2 separate regions of the Homo sapiens genome follow, and region 1 is linked to region 2. Evidence: fine-mapped expression QTL. Tissue or cell type: subcutaneous fat. Region 2 holds a variant in brackets; the other region holds the start of a gene. All regions are shown on one strand. Distances are from middle to middle.

Region 1 (8,000 bases), 560 kb before region 2:
CTGAGAGGGAAACAGGAGGAAGGGCACAACCTGTGACTTCACATTATCTACTAATACACTGGATTTAATTAAAAAACCTGTGGCTGTTAGGCAAGGCCAATGAGACATCCTGGAACTAGGCAGGAGTTAGTAGTTAGCAAGGCTGAATGCTGTGTTTATTACAGGAGCAGTAAGTAGGTACTGTGCAAAATATCGAGTCACCACCCTCAGTTTGCGTACACCAAACATGCACTAAGTGAAGAGCTGCAAATCTGAACAAGAAATGTGAAGGCCGGGCGTGGTGGCTCACGCCTGTAATCCCAGCACTTTGGGAGGCCGAGGCGGGCAGATCACAAGGTCAGGAGATTGAGACCATCGTGGCTAACACGGTGAAACCCCATCTCTACTAAAAATATAAAAAATTAGCCGGGCATGGTGGCAGGCGCCTGTAGTCCCAGCTACTTGGGAGGCAGAGGCAGGAGAATGGCATGAACCCAGGAGGCGGAGCTTGCAGCGCCACTGCACTCCAGCCCGGGCAACAGAGCGAGACTCCATCTCAAAAAAAAGAAATGTGAAAACTAATGATGCAGGAGGCAGTTTAATCAAAGAAAACTCTCAGAAGTAAAAGGAAGAGGGGTTATTCCCAGTTTTAAGACGGGCATGGGGGCAGATGCAGTGGCTCACGGCTGTAATCCCAGCACTCTGGGAGGCCAAGGCAGGCAAATCACTTAAGGTCAGGAGTTCAAGACCAGCCTGGGCAACATGGCGAAACCCCATCTCTACTAAAAATACAAAAATTAGCTGGGCATGGTGGCACATGCCTGTAGTCCTAGCTACTTGGGAGGCTAAGGTGGGAGGATGGCTTGAGCCCAGGAGACAGAGATTGCAGTGAGCCAAGACTGTACCACTGCACTCCAGCAAGACCCTGTCTCAAAAAAAAGAAAAAAGAAAGACTGGCATGAGCAAAGGTACAGATGGAATCAAGACAAAGTAGCCAGGTGTGGTGGCTTATGCCTGTGATCCCAACACTTTAGGAGGCCGAGGTGGAAGGATCACTTGAGCCCAGGAATTTGAGACCGGCCTGGGCAACACGGTGGGACCCTGTCTCACAAAAAAAAAAAAAAAAATTAGCCAGGCGCAGTGCCATTTGCTGGCAGTCCCAGTTACTCAGGAGGATGAGGTGGGAGGACTGCTTGAGCCAGGGAAGTAGAGGCTGCAGTGAACCATCACACCACTGCACTCTGTTGCCCAGGCAACAGAGCAAGACCCTATCTCAAAAAAGAAACAAAAAAGAAAAAGTGGAAACGAAGAAAGGAAATTTTGAGGAAAATTGGGAGCTGAGACACTAAAGGGCAGTGATTATATATGAAGCTGCTTTGTAAACCACAGAATCCTAATGTATCAAGCACAAAGCCAAAAATAATTCTGGAGTAAGCAGGGCAGGATGGGAATGACTGACAGACACTATCCTAACAACTCTCTGTACACTGGAAAAGACATCAGAAGTTTGATGTTAAAGAAGTGGACTACATCTGTAGCAGCTAAAAGAAATAATTCCAAGTTGCAATTTGGAGTCCCAAGGAGCATTAGGGTGGTCAGTAAAAAGTCTAAAAACAAACTGTTATATACAAATACAAGTTTTGGAAGGTTAAGTTTTTATGTATCACTGGAATGTATATGTCTAGCAACATTCTTGAGATATATGGCTCCAAAAAGTCTGCGAAAAAAGGGATGTAGATTTTGAAATTGAATAGTTGAAGTAATGTCACAGAGAGCACAAAGAACAAATGACCAAGAACTAAGTCCATGAGACACCCTTAGTTATAGAAGAAAAAAACCTTCTTGAATGAATAATACAGTTTCAACCCATTAGTAGGATATAATCATGTTTTCTATTCTTTTAATAGATTACAGGCGCAGGCCTGTAATCCCAGCTACTCTGGAGGCTGAGGCAGGAGAATCGATTGAACCCGGGAGGCGGAGGCTGCAGTGAGCCAAGATCGTGCCACTGCACTCCAGCCTGGTAGAGACTGAGACTCCATCTCAAAAAAAAAAAAAAAAAAAAGTGTATTTAGAACGAAGATTAAAATCCTGGCCTGACTTCTAAACCAATGCGATTTCTTCTGGGCCTATTCAATTAGTTCTAACGGGTAAGAGAAAGGAGGAGGAAGAACACTGCCCAAGGCTTTAAGATAGAGAACTGCTGGTTCTATTACATGTGGGGAAAGAGATGAATGATAGATAAAAATGCAGATGTAAAAGTTTTAAATAATAACCAGGTCTGGACAGTGTATCATAGGTGGATATTAGAGAGAGGTGACTATGGATACTAATGAATTGAAACACGAAGCCCTTACAAAAAGTGTGGGCAGACTAGGCTACATAACTACGTTTCTCATCTGCCCAGTAACTTGTCTTGGGATGTGGAATGACGCAAGGAACGAAACTTTCCTCTGCTTAGACTACTATACCACAGAATCCTGGTAAACCAATTGGAAGCAAGGAGGTGAGGGCTAGAATATCATTCAAAAAGAGCAAAAGAAAATGAGTACTACCGGCCGGGCACAGTGGCTCACGCCTCTAATCCCAACACTTTGGGAGGCCGAGGCGGGCGGATCACTTGAGGTCAGGAGTTCGAGACCAGCGTGGCCAACATGGTGAAACCCCATCTGAACTAAAAATACAAAAAAATTAGCCGGGCGTGGTGGCACCTGCCTGTAGTCCCAGCTACTCCAGAGGCTGAGTCAGGAGAACTGTTTGAAGGCGGGAGGCAGAAGTTGCAGTGAGCCGAGGTCGCGCAACTGCACTCCAGCCTGGGCGACAGAGCGAGACTCCGTCTCAAAAAAAAAAAAAAAAAGAAAGAAAAATGAGTACTACCATCCCAGGATGTCAAATCAACGCAAAGCCAACCAAGCCACCTTCCTTCAAAAGCATCTTTCACCCCTCTCTGCTTTCTACATCCACTCTGGGCCCCTTACCCTCATTCCACGGAGTCCCAACCTATCGATTTACTACTTCTCCACTTCCTGTCCCAAACTACCTTGACTGTCTCCAGACTGGCCCCTTCCAGCACCACAATAAGCCTACGGCCTCCGATCTTGTTTCCTGCCCCTAGTCGGGGCCGCTTGGGTGGCAGAGCATCCCAGTCCTGTGCCTGCTCCCCACCGCTTCGTTCACGAGGCTTGAATCCATCACTGGGCGCGGCCATCTTGCAACAATACCGGAAGTTGCGCTAACGCTCTTAAATAAGAACAGCGCGGCTTCTAATCACAAATTTCCTTCCGGCTGCCATTTTGAAAGTGGGCCAGGAAATGGAGATGACTTGCTGTCTTGCGCTGCCCTCCCTGGGAGGGCAGCCTTCCAGAAAGGGGCGGGACTTCCGTATGCGCGATTCCTGTGCGCGAAGTTCGGGTCCGTAGTGGGCTAAGGGGGAGGGTTTCAAAGGGAGCGCACTTCCGCTGCCCTTTCTTTCGCCAGCCTTACGGGCCCGAACCCTCGTGTGAAGGGTGCAGTACCTAAGCCGGAGCGGGGTAGAGGCGGGCCGGCACCCCCTTCTGACCTCCAGTGCCGCCGGCCTCAAGATCAGACATGGCCCAGAACTTGAAGGACTTGGCGGGACGGCTGCCCGCCGGGCCCCGGGGCATGGGCACGGCCCTGAAGCTGTTGCTGGGGGCCGGCGCCGTGGCCTACGGTGTGCGCGAATCTGTGTTCACCGGTGAGCAACCTCCGCCTGCTCGCCGGACGCTTCCAGTCCCTCCCCCAAACCCCTTGCCCTGTCCCCGCGCCCCTCCACGGGCCTAGCATTTCCTCTGAGCAGCGGCCTGGCCTGATCACCACCCATCTCCCCACAGTGGAAGGCGGGCACAGAGCCATCTTCTTCAATCGGATCGGTGGAGTGCAGCAGGACACTATCCTGGCCGAGGGCCTTCACTTCAGGTAATGGCGGGCAGAGCCTGCTGACCCTGACCTTTCACCCTTGACGCCGACCCAGCAGTGGCTATAGTCGGACGTGCAACAGGATTCAACGCTGCTCTTTTCCCACCCTCCTCATCCCTGCCCCTAGGATAGTGGGTGCTGCGAGAACCTCCAGCAGCATACAAACTGTTGTTTTCCAGAGGGACAAGAGAATCTCTCCTTGTCTGTGGTCGTGGAGAGGAGCAGGCCAAAAAACGCGTGGTGAGGGGAAACCGGGCAAGGCTAGTGAAACTGCGGCCTTTTCTTTTTTTTTTTTTGGAGAGGGAGTCTTGCTCTGTCGCCCAGGCTGGAGTGCAGTGGCGCGATCTCGGCTCACTGCAACCTCCGCCTCCTGATTTCAAGCGATTCTCCTGCCTCAGCCTCACGAGTAGCTGGGATTACAGGCGCCCGCCACCACGCCCGGCTAATTTTTGTATTTTAGTAGAGACGGGGTTTCACTATGTAGATCAAGCTGGTCTCGAACTCCTGACCTCAAATGATCCGCCCGCCTCGGCCTCCCAAAGTGCTGGGATTACAGGCGTGAGCCACCGCGCCCGGCCGAAACTGTGGCCTCTTAATACCTATCCCTGTCCTCTCCAGGATCCCTTGGTTCCAGTACCCCATTATCTATGACATTCGGGCCAGACCTCGAAAAATCTCCTCCCCTACAGGCTCCAAAGGTAGGTCTGAGCACTTGGTAATCACATGGCAGGTGGGATGATCAAGGTAGCTGGCAAGAAACCCCAGGGGAATATGGTAGTGTCAGGCCTTTAGGCCTCTTTCCACATCTGCAAGAGCTGTAACAAAAATACCTGCCTCCTGGGGTCAAAGCAGCAAATTCTGAACACACTGTGTTTGCGTGCTTTTTACTGTCTCCTCCCTGACGTGTATTCAATAAGAGTATTGTTTGTCCCTCGTCTTGTTCACTGCCTAGATCAAAGCTTTGTTTTAAAGCCTTTTTTTTCTAACTGCTTGACTTACTATATCTACAGTTACATCCACTAGTACACTCTGTTCTGGAGAAGTTTGTCCCTAAGCTTGACTAGTTCACCTGTTCTCTCCTTCTAGACCATACATAAAAGCCGTGCCTTTGAGTTCCCCAGACCTCTTCCTCCTCCCCACCCACGCACACATATACACCCTGGGTCAGGTAGCTCACCTGTAACCTGTAATGTACTTCTTTGTGCTATACCTAGTGCAGGTCGCTTATTCATTTACTAGACTGGGCCCTGGGAATAAAAGATTCATTAAACACAATTCTTGTCCCCCAAGTCCTTACAGGAGACATGATTACGGTACAGCACGAAAGCGCCCACGTTAGAGGTTGCACAGAGTACAGAGGGGGAAAGAGTAGTCAGCTCTGCTGGTGACGGGGTTTGCAGTTCAAGGCTTCACAGTGGGTGAGGGTGCATTTCAGCTGTGCTGCGTCTTGTCTTCCTTGTCAGCCTGATTAACTCTCCTCCCCCCAGGGTAGTGCCAGGCTGTACACCATTGCACAGGGCATACAGGGAGGAACATGAAGGAGAAAATGCTTGGGAAAGGGTGTTTGGCCTTGACCAGCCACTGCTGACCTCAATCTCAGACCTACAGATGGTGAATATCTCCCTGCGAGTGTTGTCTCGACCCAATGCTCAGGAGCTTCCTAGCATGTACCAGCGCCTAGGGCTGGACTACGAGGAACGAGTGTTGCCGTCCATTGTCAACGAGGTGCTCAAGAGTGTGGTGGCCAAGTTCAATGCCTCACAGCTGATCACCCAGCGGGCCCAGGTCTGACTCCCACCACCATCTGCGTGGTGTCAGCCTTTCCTTCCTAGGCCCAGAGTATTGGGAATTAGGAAAGGCAGCTTATTAGAAAAGCATTGTCACCCTAGTGCCATTTCCACCTAAAAGCTGTGCTAATTGCCACTGTGAAATAAGGAGAGCCAGCATTAGAACTCGATAGCACTCGGTGTTAGGAAGCACAGAGGAAAATGGCCAAGTCTTGGCTTTTCCTGCACCTCTTCGAGCAGAGAGGCTTATGTTACAGGTTTGCCTGACAGGAAGCTAAGGCAGTGCATGTTGTATTGAGAGTGAAGGGTTAGGGGTCGCAACCTTCCTTTCAGCTCCCCAGTCCCCTCAAACCACCCCTCCCTTCCCCTCTTCACCCCTGCCCTCAGGTATCCCTGTTGATCCGCCGGGAGCTGACAGAGAGGGCCAAGGACTTCAGCCTCATCCTGGATGATGTGGCCATCACAGAGCTGAGCTTTAGCCGAGAGTACACAGCTGCTGTAGAAGCCAAACAAGTGGGTGAGTCGCAAGAGCCGTGGGGTGAGGGCTTCTGAGATGCAGGAGGAGGAAAGACTCCATGGGTGGGGCTCCTGACCCAGGACAGGGTCTCCCTGACTCTCTCCCACCACAGCCCAGCAGGAGGCCCAGCGGGCCCAATTCTTGGTAGAAAAAGCAAAGCAGGAACAGCGGCAGAAAATTGTGCAGGCCGAGGGTGAGGCCGAGGCTGCCAAGATGATATCCTTCTGCTGGAGAGATCTCAGCCCAGCCCCTAGGGCACCTGAGTTCCCCATTCTCCTTCATGGGCAGGCTGATGAGACTAAGGCGAATGCGACTCCGTGCTCTCTGGCCCTTGGCTCCTTGTTGGGGGTGGGGACTACAGATGAGATCTGAAATCTTAGTGGTAGTACCTGAGCCATGACTCCCCACTGTAAGGCCAGATCAATAGCATTGGTGGCCTTGCCTTCATTTCTGGTGCTGCCCCTAGTTCCTGGCAGCAGCCTGCAGGGAGGCCCACAGGTGGGGTCCACGGTAGGGCTGGGCACAAGCCACCTGAGCGCAACCTTGGATCTGACAGCCCAGAGGAGGACTGGAGCAAGGGAGTGTGGTAAGGACAGGGCCAGGGATTGAGACCTGCCCTTGCGTGTACCTTAACCCTCCTCACCTTGGAGAAGCACTGAGCAAGAACCCTGGCTACATCAAACTTCGCAAGATTCGAGCAGCCCAGAATATCTCCAAGACGGTGAGTGTGTCAGCCCAGCGTCTCTGATGGGGCTGCCTTGAGAAAGTGCTTTCAGTTAAGGCACATTGAGGTGAGGGAATTCGAACCTTGCTTGTTCCGGTTTCTACTCAGATTGGCTTCTCTGGCCGGCGCGGTGGCTCACGCATGTAATCCCCGCACTTTGGGAGGCCAAGGTGGGTGGATCACCTGAGGTCAGGAGTTCGAGACCAGCCTGGCCAACATGGTGAAACCCCATCTCTACTAAAAATACAAAAGATAATGAGCCCGCTGTGGTGGCGTTTAGCTATATTCCCAGCTACGCAGGAGGCTGAGGCAGGAGAATCACTTGAACCCAGGAGGCGGAAGTTGCAGTGAGCTGAGATCATGCCACTGCACTCCAGCCTGAGCAACAGAGCAAGACTCCGTCTCAAAAATAAATAAATAAAAAATTGGCTTCTCCGATACTCCTCCTGTCAAGAATGATTCCTCTGGGTTCCCTGACCTTTTGTTCTAATCATAGCTGCTGCTCAGCGCTCTGGATCCCTAAGTGCGAGCAGAAACCATGTGTTACTCATTGCTGCACCCCTGCCCTAATCTGCATGTGTTCCATGTTAAGTAGCTGCTGAATTGCAGGGGTCGGAATTGAGGTCTTTGCTTAATGCAAGCATCTGTCTTATTTCCTGCCCTGTAGATCGCCACATCACAGAATCGTATCTATCTCACAGCTGACAACCTTGTGCTGAACCTACAGGATGAAAGTTTCACCAGGTGAGAGATGTGGCCACACTGTGGGGTATCACCAAGAACGTGGGACCTGAGTCTGGTTGTTTGGGCTCTGGAGCCTGCTACAGCTATTCATATGGCTCAGAGACATTGAACCAAAATTAGAAAAGGGGGTGGTTGACAGTTTCTATCTTGCATCTCATAGGATTGATTTTATGAGATCAAATAGGATTATTCACATAAAAAGCACTTTAATTATAAAGTTTTCATCTAACCAAAAAGTGATGAAAGATGATACTCAGTTTTCTTACTCAAGAGCCCTCAAACTCCTCTGGTGAATGGAGGGATGTTAGGAAAG
Region 2 (8,260 bases):
TTCAACCCATCACGCAGAGGTTGTAGTGAGCCAACATCGCACCACTGCACTTCAGCCTGGGGGACAGAGTGAGACTCTGTCTCAAAAAAACAGAAAACACAAAACTTATGGGCAGAGGGCATTGGTGGAAACCCACTGAAATTAGGGGAAGGGAACAGGGGAAAAAAGAAGAAGTTCTTCCTTTTAGTGAGGACCGGAATAATTGCCAGGCCAACCATTATACCTGGAGGAAGGGCAATTATGAAGGCCACACTCCCAAGATCCAGGTTCATAGTGCCTACCTAAGGCTGAGCCTCAATCATAACACAAGGGAACACATAACCTCCTTCATAGCCTACCACCACATGACAGGCCTCCAGTGAAAAATAATACAAGAATGTATCTGGGAGAACTTGCAAGAGACAGACTTTATTTAGGGAACAGTGCAAAAGGAAGATACAAATCCAAGAGACAAAAACAAGGCACCACTAGAGGAATTTTAAGCCCCTGATGCACTGAGGATAATAATATATGTTGGTGCAAAAGCAAACTTCAAACCCAGCCCTCCTGACTACATTAATGGAAATCTCTATACTAGAGAAGTAGCAGAAAGAAATGAATGCTTATCTTCAAGAATACAAAATATTTATGTCAGTATCTGTTGTGTTATACAGCATATCCAGCTTTCAATGAAAACCACAAGGTATACAAAAAGGAAAGAAAAAACACAATCTGGACTGGGCATGGTGGCTCACACCTGTAGTCTCAGTACTTAGGGAGGCCAAGGCAGGCGGATGACGAGGTCAGGAGTTCAAGATCAGCCTGGCCAGTATGGTGAAACCCCTCTCTACAAATACAAAAATTAGCTAGGCATGGTAGCGCATGCCTGTCAACCCAGCTACTGGGGAGGCTGAGGCAGGAGAATTGCTTGAACCCAGGAAGCAGAGGTTGCAATGAACAGAGATCATGCCACTGCACTCCAACCTGGGTGACAGAGCAATACTCCGTTTCAAAAAAAAGAAAAAGACACAATCTAAAAAGACAAAAAAAAAAAATCAGAACCAGACTCAGATATGACATCAGACATGGAATTTAAAGTAACATGATTATGTTAAAGGATTTAATGGAAAAGGTAGACAACATGCCAAAAGAAGATGGATAAATTCAGCAGAGGAAACCATAAGAATAAAATGGAAATGCTTGAAATAAAATCGTGGTGACAGAAATGAAGAACACCTTTGACTGGTTCATCAGTAGACTCAGTATAGCTGAGAAAAGAATCAGTGACCTTGGGTGTAGAGGTCAATAGAAATTTCCCAAACTCCCTTTCCAACTTGGACATGGCAGAATGGCTCCCACAAAGAAGGGTGGCGAGAAGAAAAAGGGCCGTTCTGCCATCAACGAAGTGGTGACCCGAGAATACACCATCAACATTCACAAGCGCATTTGTGGAGTAGGCTTCAAGAAGCGTGCCCCTCGGGCACTCAAAGAGATTCGGAAATTTGCCATGAAGGAGATGGAAACTCCAGATGTGCGCATTGATACCAGGCTCAACAAAGCTGTCTGGGCCAAAGGAATAAGGAATGTCCGACACCGAATCCATGTGCGGCTGTCCAGAAAACGTAATGAGGATGAAGATTCACAAATAAGCTCTATACTTTGGTTACCTATGTATTTGCTACCACTTTCAAAAATCTACAGACAGTCAATGTGGATGAGAACTAATCGCTGATAGTCAAATACATCAAATAAAGTTATAAAATTGCAAAAAAATAAAGAGGAATTACCCAAACTGAAGTGCAAAAAAAGAGTGGGTAAAAAACAAAACAGAACAACAACAAAAAAGAAAGAAAGAAGACACCATCCAAGAATACCAAATGAGTTAACATGCCCATAATTGGAATTCCAGAAGGAGAAGAAAGACTTGGACAGGATTTGTCTAATCAGACTTAGTTAAACAAACAAACAAACGAACAAAAAGAATAAGACAGGAGAAACATTTGAAGAGATAATGGCTTAGAATTATCCAAAATTAGTAACAGACAGAAAAGCACAGATCAAGGAAGCTCAGAGAACACCAAGCAGGATAAATACCAAAACAACACAGCCCCTCACCAAACCCATGCATCTAGGCATATCATATTAAAACTGCTGAAAACCAAAGAGAAAGAAAATCTGGAAGTCAGCCAAGGGGGAAAAAACATAATATCTTACCGAGGAGCGAGGATAAGAATTACAGCAGACTGCTAGTCAGAAACAATAAAAGCAAAATGAAATGGAGTAATATCTTTTTTTTTTTTTTTTTTGAGATGGAGTCTCGCTCCATCACTCAGGCTGGAGTGCAGTGGCATGATCTTGGCTCACTGCAACCTCCGCCTCCCGGGTTCAAGTGATTCTCCTGCCTCAGCTAGGTGCCTGCCATCATACCCAGCTAATTTTTGTATTTTTAGTAGAGACGGGTTTTCGCCATGTTGGCCAGGCTAGTCTCAAACTCCTGACTTCAGGTGATCCACCAACCTTGGCCTCCCAAAGTGCTAGGATTACAGGCGTGAGCCACTGTGCCTGGCCCAAATTAAGAGTTTTCTATTTTTATTTTTATTTTTTTAGAGACGGGGTCTCACTACGTTTCCCAGGATGGTCTGAAACTCCTGGACTCCAGTGATCCTCCCACCTCAGCCTCCCAAAATGCTGGGATTACAAGCATTAGCAACTACACCAGGCCAAAATTAAAAGTTTATCAGACAAACAGAAACTGAGGAAGTTGATTGCCAGCAGACCTACTTTATAATAAATGTCAAAGCAAGTTCTCTAAGAAGAAGAGGCTGGGTGTGGTGGCTCACGCCTGTAATCCCAGCACTTTGGGGGGCCAAGGCGGGTGATCACTTGAGGTCAGGAGTTTGAGACCAGCCTGGCCAACATGGTGAAACCCTGTCTCTACTAAAAACACAAAAATTATCTGGGCGTGGTGGTGGGCGCCTGTAGTCCCAGCTACTCAAGTGGCTGAGGCAGGAGAATTGCTTGAACCCGGGAGGCGGAGGTCGCAGGGAGCCGAGATTGTGTCAGCCTGGGTTGAACAGAGTGAAACTTCGTCTCAAAAAAGAAAGAAGAAGAAGAAATATAATCAAAATCTTGGATCTATACAAAGAAACAACGTACTGTAGTTTATAGAATACCATTTACAATAGCAGCCCCCATGAAGTTTTTAGGTATAAATATAACAAAATACGTGGGAGATATGTGTGCTAAAAACTACAAAATACTGACGAAAGAAATCAACATGGGGCCGGGCATGGTGGCTCCTGCCTGTAATCCCAGCACTTTGGGAGGCCGAGGCGGGCGGATCACTTGCGGTCAGGAGTTCAAGACCAGTCTGGCCAACATGGTGAAACCCCGTCTCTACTAAAAATACAAAAATTAGCCCAGTGTGTTGGCACACGCCTGTAATCCCAGCTACTTGGGAGGCTGAAGCAAGAGAATTGCTTGACCCCAGGAGGCGGAGGAGGCGGTGAGCCAAGACTGCACCACTGCACTCCAGCCTGGGCGATGGAGATTCCGTCTCAAGAAATAAATAAATAAATAAATAAATAAATAAATAAATAAA[A/TAAATAAAA]GAGAAAGAAAGAAAAGAAAAACTGAATGCTACAAGTTCAGCCCATTACTAACCAGTTCCAGACAAATTGGCTTTTTTCTTTTTTCTTCTTATTTTCCTCTGGCTTTTCCCCTCATTTTAAAAATGGAGAGGTAATCGTGCCTCTCATGAGCGAATAGTTTTAGTATGCTTAGAACACTGTCCTGTACATAGTAAGCATTCAACATATGTTGGCTAATACTACTGAAGCCAATTGTAACAGTAGTATTAGAAGCCGTAATAATATTACCCCAGTCAAATATGTCCATAATTGGCAATAGGGAAAGAATTGCTGCCACTCAGCAGTATTTGGAGTATTGAATGTCATTGTTTACTTTTTCTGGAAGGAGCGTGACCTAAGACACTGATCTAAACTGAATGTGCATGGCTAATGGTGTGGATAGACAGAGATTTTAAGTGGGCAAAAGTGAAGGTTGTGTTGACAAGAAGTTTCAGGAAACAGTGATGTGGATGAATTTCCCAGAACGGTCCCAGAATATGAGAATAATGTCCCACGTGAATGCTAATCGAAATTCCCACTCTTCAGAGGAGGCTATCAGCAATCAGGTACACATCAACCATATGGCTGTCATGTAGTCTCTTCGTATCACCCCACTTACTGCCCAAGTGATTTATTTGTAAACAATGTGGCCAGCGTGGTGGCTCACGCCTATAATGCCAGCACTTTGGGAGGCCGAGGTGGGTGGATCATCTGAGGTCAGGAGTTTGAGACCAGCCTGGCCAACATGGTGAAACCCCATCTCTACTAAGAATACAAATATTAGCCGGGCCTGGTGGCGGGTGACTGCAATCCCAGCTACTCGGGAGGCTGAGGCAGGAGAATCACTTGAACCTGGGAGGTGGAGGTTGTAGTGAGCTGAGATCACGCCATTGCACTCCAGCCTGGGTGACGGAGTGAGACTCTATCTCAAAAAAAAAAAAAAAAAATGTGACTAGGGTGGCAGGCAGTGGTAGAGGTTATACTTGAGCTCTATAGTATAGACTTAGCTCACCAAGGCTGACCTCTGGATGCTGATGCTGCTAAGTGTCCCATATGTCAGGGGAAGTATTCTTGTATTCTTGCAAGTATTTTGTCATGGATGGGGCAGGGATTTGTCTTCACTGAGATAAACACTTACTCTAGATTTGGATATGCTTCACTTACATGCTATTGCTAGCAGGACCATCAATGAACTTACTGAACACTTCATACCTCATATCTCACAACGTCTTTTTGGACCCATTTCTATAAGTTATACAAAAAGGGTAAGGTAATGCATGGATGACCATGGGACTCAGTAGTTCTAATGTGTACCACATTCCTTATAAGTAGAAATCTCAATTTTTGGAAGCCTCAGTTAAAGTGGCATGTAGTCATTTTGCACCCTCTTGGAGTACTGTTCAATTTTCGACATTGTATATGTGCTTAATAGTGACTAAGAATAGGCATAATTTCTTCTGTAGCCAAAATGCATTGGTTAAAGAAAGGAGAGGTAGGAGTGGAGTGGTGCCTCTCCTATTACACTTAACAGCCAACTCGAGAAAGTTATGCTTTTCATGTTTGCAACTCAGGGCTCTCTGCTGCCTTGAGTTGTTTTAGAACTCCTTGTTTTAGAAAAGGAGGAGTACATGCTGCCACCAGTCGTCACGGAGATGCCTCTGTTTATCGATTTACTAAAAAGGATTTATTTTTGTATGACGTTTAAAGCAGTTTAAATTACATTCATTTGCTGACTTAGAGAACTGTGGGAAGTCTTGACTTATGGGAGTTGGGCTTTTGGACTTCTCCTCTGTTTGCCAGTTTTCTTTTTGTTTCTGTCTCCCCTTTTCTTTCCCCCGTCTGTCTTGGGCTATCTCTTTTTAGGCGCATAGGCAAGGAGCTGTGACCGACAATTTGAATGTTTTTAAAAATACTCTCATAAAAAACACACCTTTGGCCGGGCGCGGTGGCTCACGCCTGTAATCCCAGCACTTTGGCAGGCTGAGGCAGGCGGATCACAGGAGGTCAGGAGTTTGAGACCAGCCTGGCCAACATGGTGAAACCCGGTCTTTACTAAAAATACAAAAATTAGCAGGGCGTGGTGGAGCGCGCCTGTAGTCCCAGCTACTCGGGAGGCTGGGGCAGGAGAATTGCTTGAATCTGGGAGGTGGAGGATGCAGTGAGCCGAGATTGCGCCATTGCACTCCAGCCTGGGAGACAGAGTGAGACTCTGTCTCAAAAAAAAAGAAAACAAAACATTTTTTTCTGCAATACTTTTCAAAGAATGGTTTAAAAGCAATGACAATCCATGATCAGTGAGAATTTTCACTCAGATTATGGTCTCTCAATTCCTTTTTCAAAGAGCAGACAGGCTACTTGGAGACTTGGGTAAATTTATGGATTATAATAGATTTAAGAGGAACAGCCATCAGATGCCATATTTGGAGCTGGTGGGACCTCATTCAGACAAAATCAGTATAAAAAATATTTCAGACAATTCAGGATTTCCTTTCTTTAAGGGCTAGGTATTGGATAATGTTATAAGTCATTTTTAAAATTTTCTTAGGTGTGAAATCTTAGTGTATTTTCTCTATATTCATATCTGTTAGGATGTTTGTGAAAATATTCATGATTAAAATCACATTTTTGAGATTTCATGTTTGGGATATTTTTTAGACTCCCTCATCCACCATTGTGGGTGCAGATAATGAAACAAAATGGCAAGTTGTTGGTAATTTTTGAAGCACGTGTGACGAGCCCTGGGAAGTGCAGTATTCTCTATATTTTTGTGTCTACTTCAGTATGTCCATGACCACTCCCTTTCCCCTCCAAAAAAAAGTTAAAATTTAAAAAAAGCTGGCTAAATTAAAAAAAAGAAAAGAAAAAGGAAATCAACAAAGATATAAATAAATGATTAGGTGTAGGCTGGGTGGGGGCTGGGTGTGGGCTGGGTGTGGGCTGGGTGCACCTGTAATCCCAGTGCTTTGGGAGGTTGAGGCAGGGGGATCACTTGAGGCCAGAAGTTCGAGACCAGCTTGGACGACACAGAAAGACGCAGTCTCTACACAAAATAAAAAATTACTCAGGCATGGTGGCATGTGCCTGTACTCTCGGCTACTTAGGAGACTGAGGTGGGAAGATCACTTGAGCACAGGAGTTCAAGGTTGCAGTGAGCTATGATTGCACCACTGCACTCTAGCCTGCACTCTAGTCTGGGTGACAGAGTGATACCTCGCCTCAAAAAAAAAAAAAAAAAGGTATAAATAAATAGAAAGATATACTGTATTCATAGATTAGAAAATTCAATATTGTAAATATGTTAATTCTCCCCAGTTTGATCTATAGATTCAATGCATTATCAATCAAAATCATAGGAAGCTTTTTTTTGATAGAAATTGACAAACTGATTCTAAAATTTATATGAAAAGGGAAAGAAATGAAAAGGAACTAAAAAAATAGTAGGAGAAATTACTCTACCACTTATTAGACTTATTAGAAAGCAATTAGTGTGGTATTAGCGAAAGAGTAGACAACTTAGGTGAATAGAGCCAATAGAGAGACCAGAAATAAACCCACACAAATAATGTCAACTGATTTTTGACAAAGATGCAAAGGCAATCCAGTGGTGAAAGAACAGTCTTTTCAACAAACAGTGCTGGAAAAATTAGACATTCATATGTAAAAACAAAACCAAAAAACCTCAACACGTACCTCACACTTACACCAAAAAATGGCTCATAAACTTAAATGTAGAAAGTAAGACATCTAGAAAAAAGCACAGGAGACCCTGTGTGTGTGTAACCTTAGGTTTGGTGATAAGTTTTCTGGTACTGGAAACACAATTCATAAAGAAAAAAATGATGAATTGTACCTTATCACAAATAAAAACTTTTGTTCTGTGAAAGATAGGTTGAGAAAATGAATAGACAATCCACAGCCTGGGAGAAAATATTTGCAAATAATGTATCTGATAAAGGACTTCTATCCAGAATAAATAATTCTTCTTTTTCTTTCTTTCTTTCTTTCTTTTTTTTTTTTTTTGAGACAGAATCTCACTCTGTCACCCAAGCTGGAGTGCAGTGGCGTGATCTTGGCTTACGGCAACCTCTGCCTCCCGTGTTCAAGCGATTCTCCTGCCTCAGCCTCCTGAGTAGCTGGGATTATTACAGGCACGTGCCACCACACCTGGCTAATTTTTGTATTTTGCGTTTTTTTTTTTTTTTTTGAGATGGAGTTTTGCTCTTGTTGCCAAGGCTGGATTGCAATGGCACGATCTCGGCTCACCACAACATGTGCCTCCCCGGTTAAAGTGATTCTCCTGCCTCAGCCTCCCGAGTAGCTGGGATTACAAGCATGCTCCACCATGCCCGGTTAATTTTGTATTTTTAGTAGAGACGGGCTTTCTCCATGTTGGTCAGGCTGGTCTTGAACTCCTGACCTCAGATGATCCGCCCACCTCGGCCTCCCAAAGTGCTGGGATTACAGGCGTGAGCCACCATGCCCGGCCTAATGTTTGTATTTTTAGTAGAGATGGGGTTTCGCCATGTTGGTCACACTGGTCTCGAACTCCTGACCTCAAGCGATTCAGCCGCCTAGGGCTTCCAAAGTGCTGAGATTATAGGCGTGAGCCACTGCACACTGCCGAATGATCCAATTTAATAACAAGCAAAATATCTAAAGAG

Alleles and levels. Alleles are on the strand shown, and positions count from the first base shown. SD is a standard deviation of normalised expression in the study named.
As copies of TAAATAAAA replace A in region 2, the expression in subcutaneous fat of the gene that starts at base 3,447 in region 1 goes up (small effect, 0.35 SD a copy in FUSION).

The links. PIP is the estimated chance that this variant, and not a neighbour inherited with it, causes the effect.
Region 1: PHB2 starts here. The variant in region 2 is fine-mapped to the expression of PHB2 in subcutaneous fat (FUSION, PIP 0.94).

The regions. Positions count from the first base shown.
Region 1 is chr12:6,966,111-6,974,110 of GRCh38, reverse strand. It overlaps PHB2 (prohibitin 2), which reads left to right and starts at 3,447. Exons shown (of 10, transcript NM_001144831.2): 1 at 3,447-3,694; 2 at 3,831-3,915; 3 at 4,534-4,613; 4 at 5,516-5,700; 5 at 6,090-6,219; 6 at 6,332-6,435; 7 at 6,863-6,940; 8 at 7,611-7,687. The coding sequence starts at 3,568. EMG1 (EMG1 N1-specific pseudouridine methyltransferase) reads right to left here and starts at 3,198. Exons shown (of 6, transcript NM_006331.8): 1 at 3,020-3,198. The coding sequence starts at 3,187. It also overlaps SCARNA12. RefSeq lists enhancers at 2,891-3,010, 3,061-3,240, 3,331-3,400, 2,921-3,523, 6,548-7,048.
Region 2 is chr12:6,403,081-6,411,340 of GRCh38, reverse strand. It overlaps the pseudogene RPL31P10. Among named protein-coding and RNA genes, the nearest start is that of LTBR, 23 kb to the right of the region's middle. The variant A/TAAATAAAA (reference allele first, on the strand shown) is at 3,581.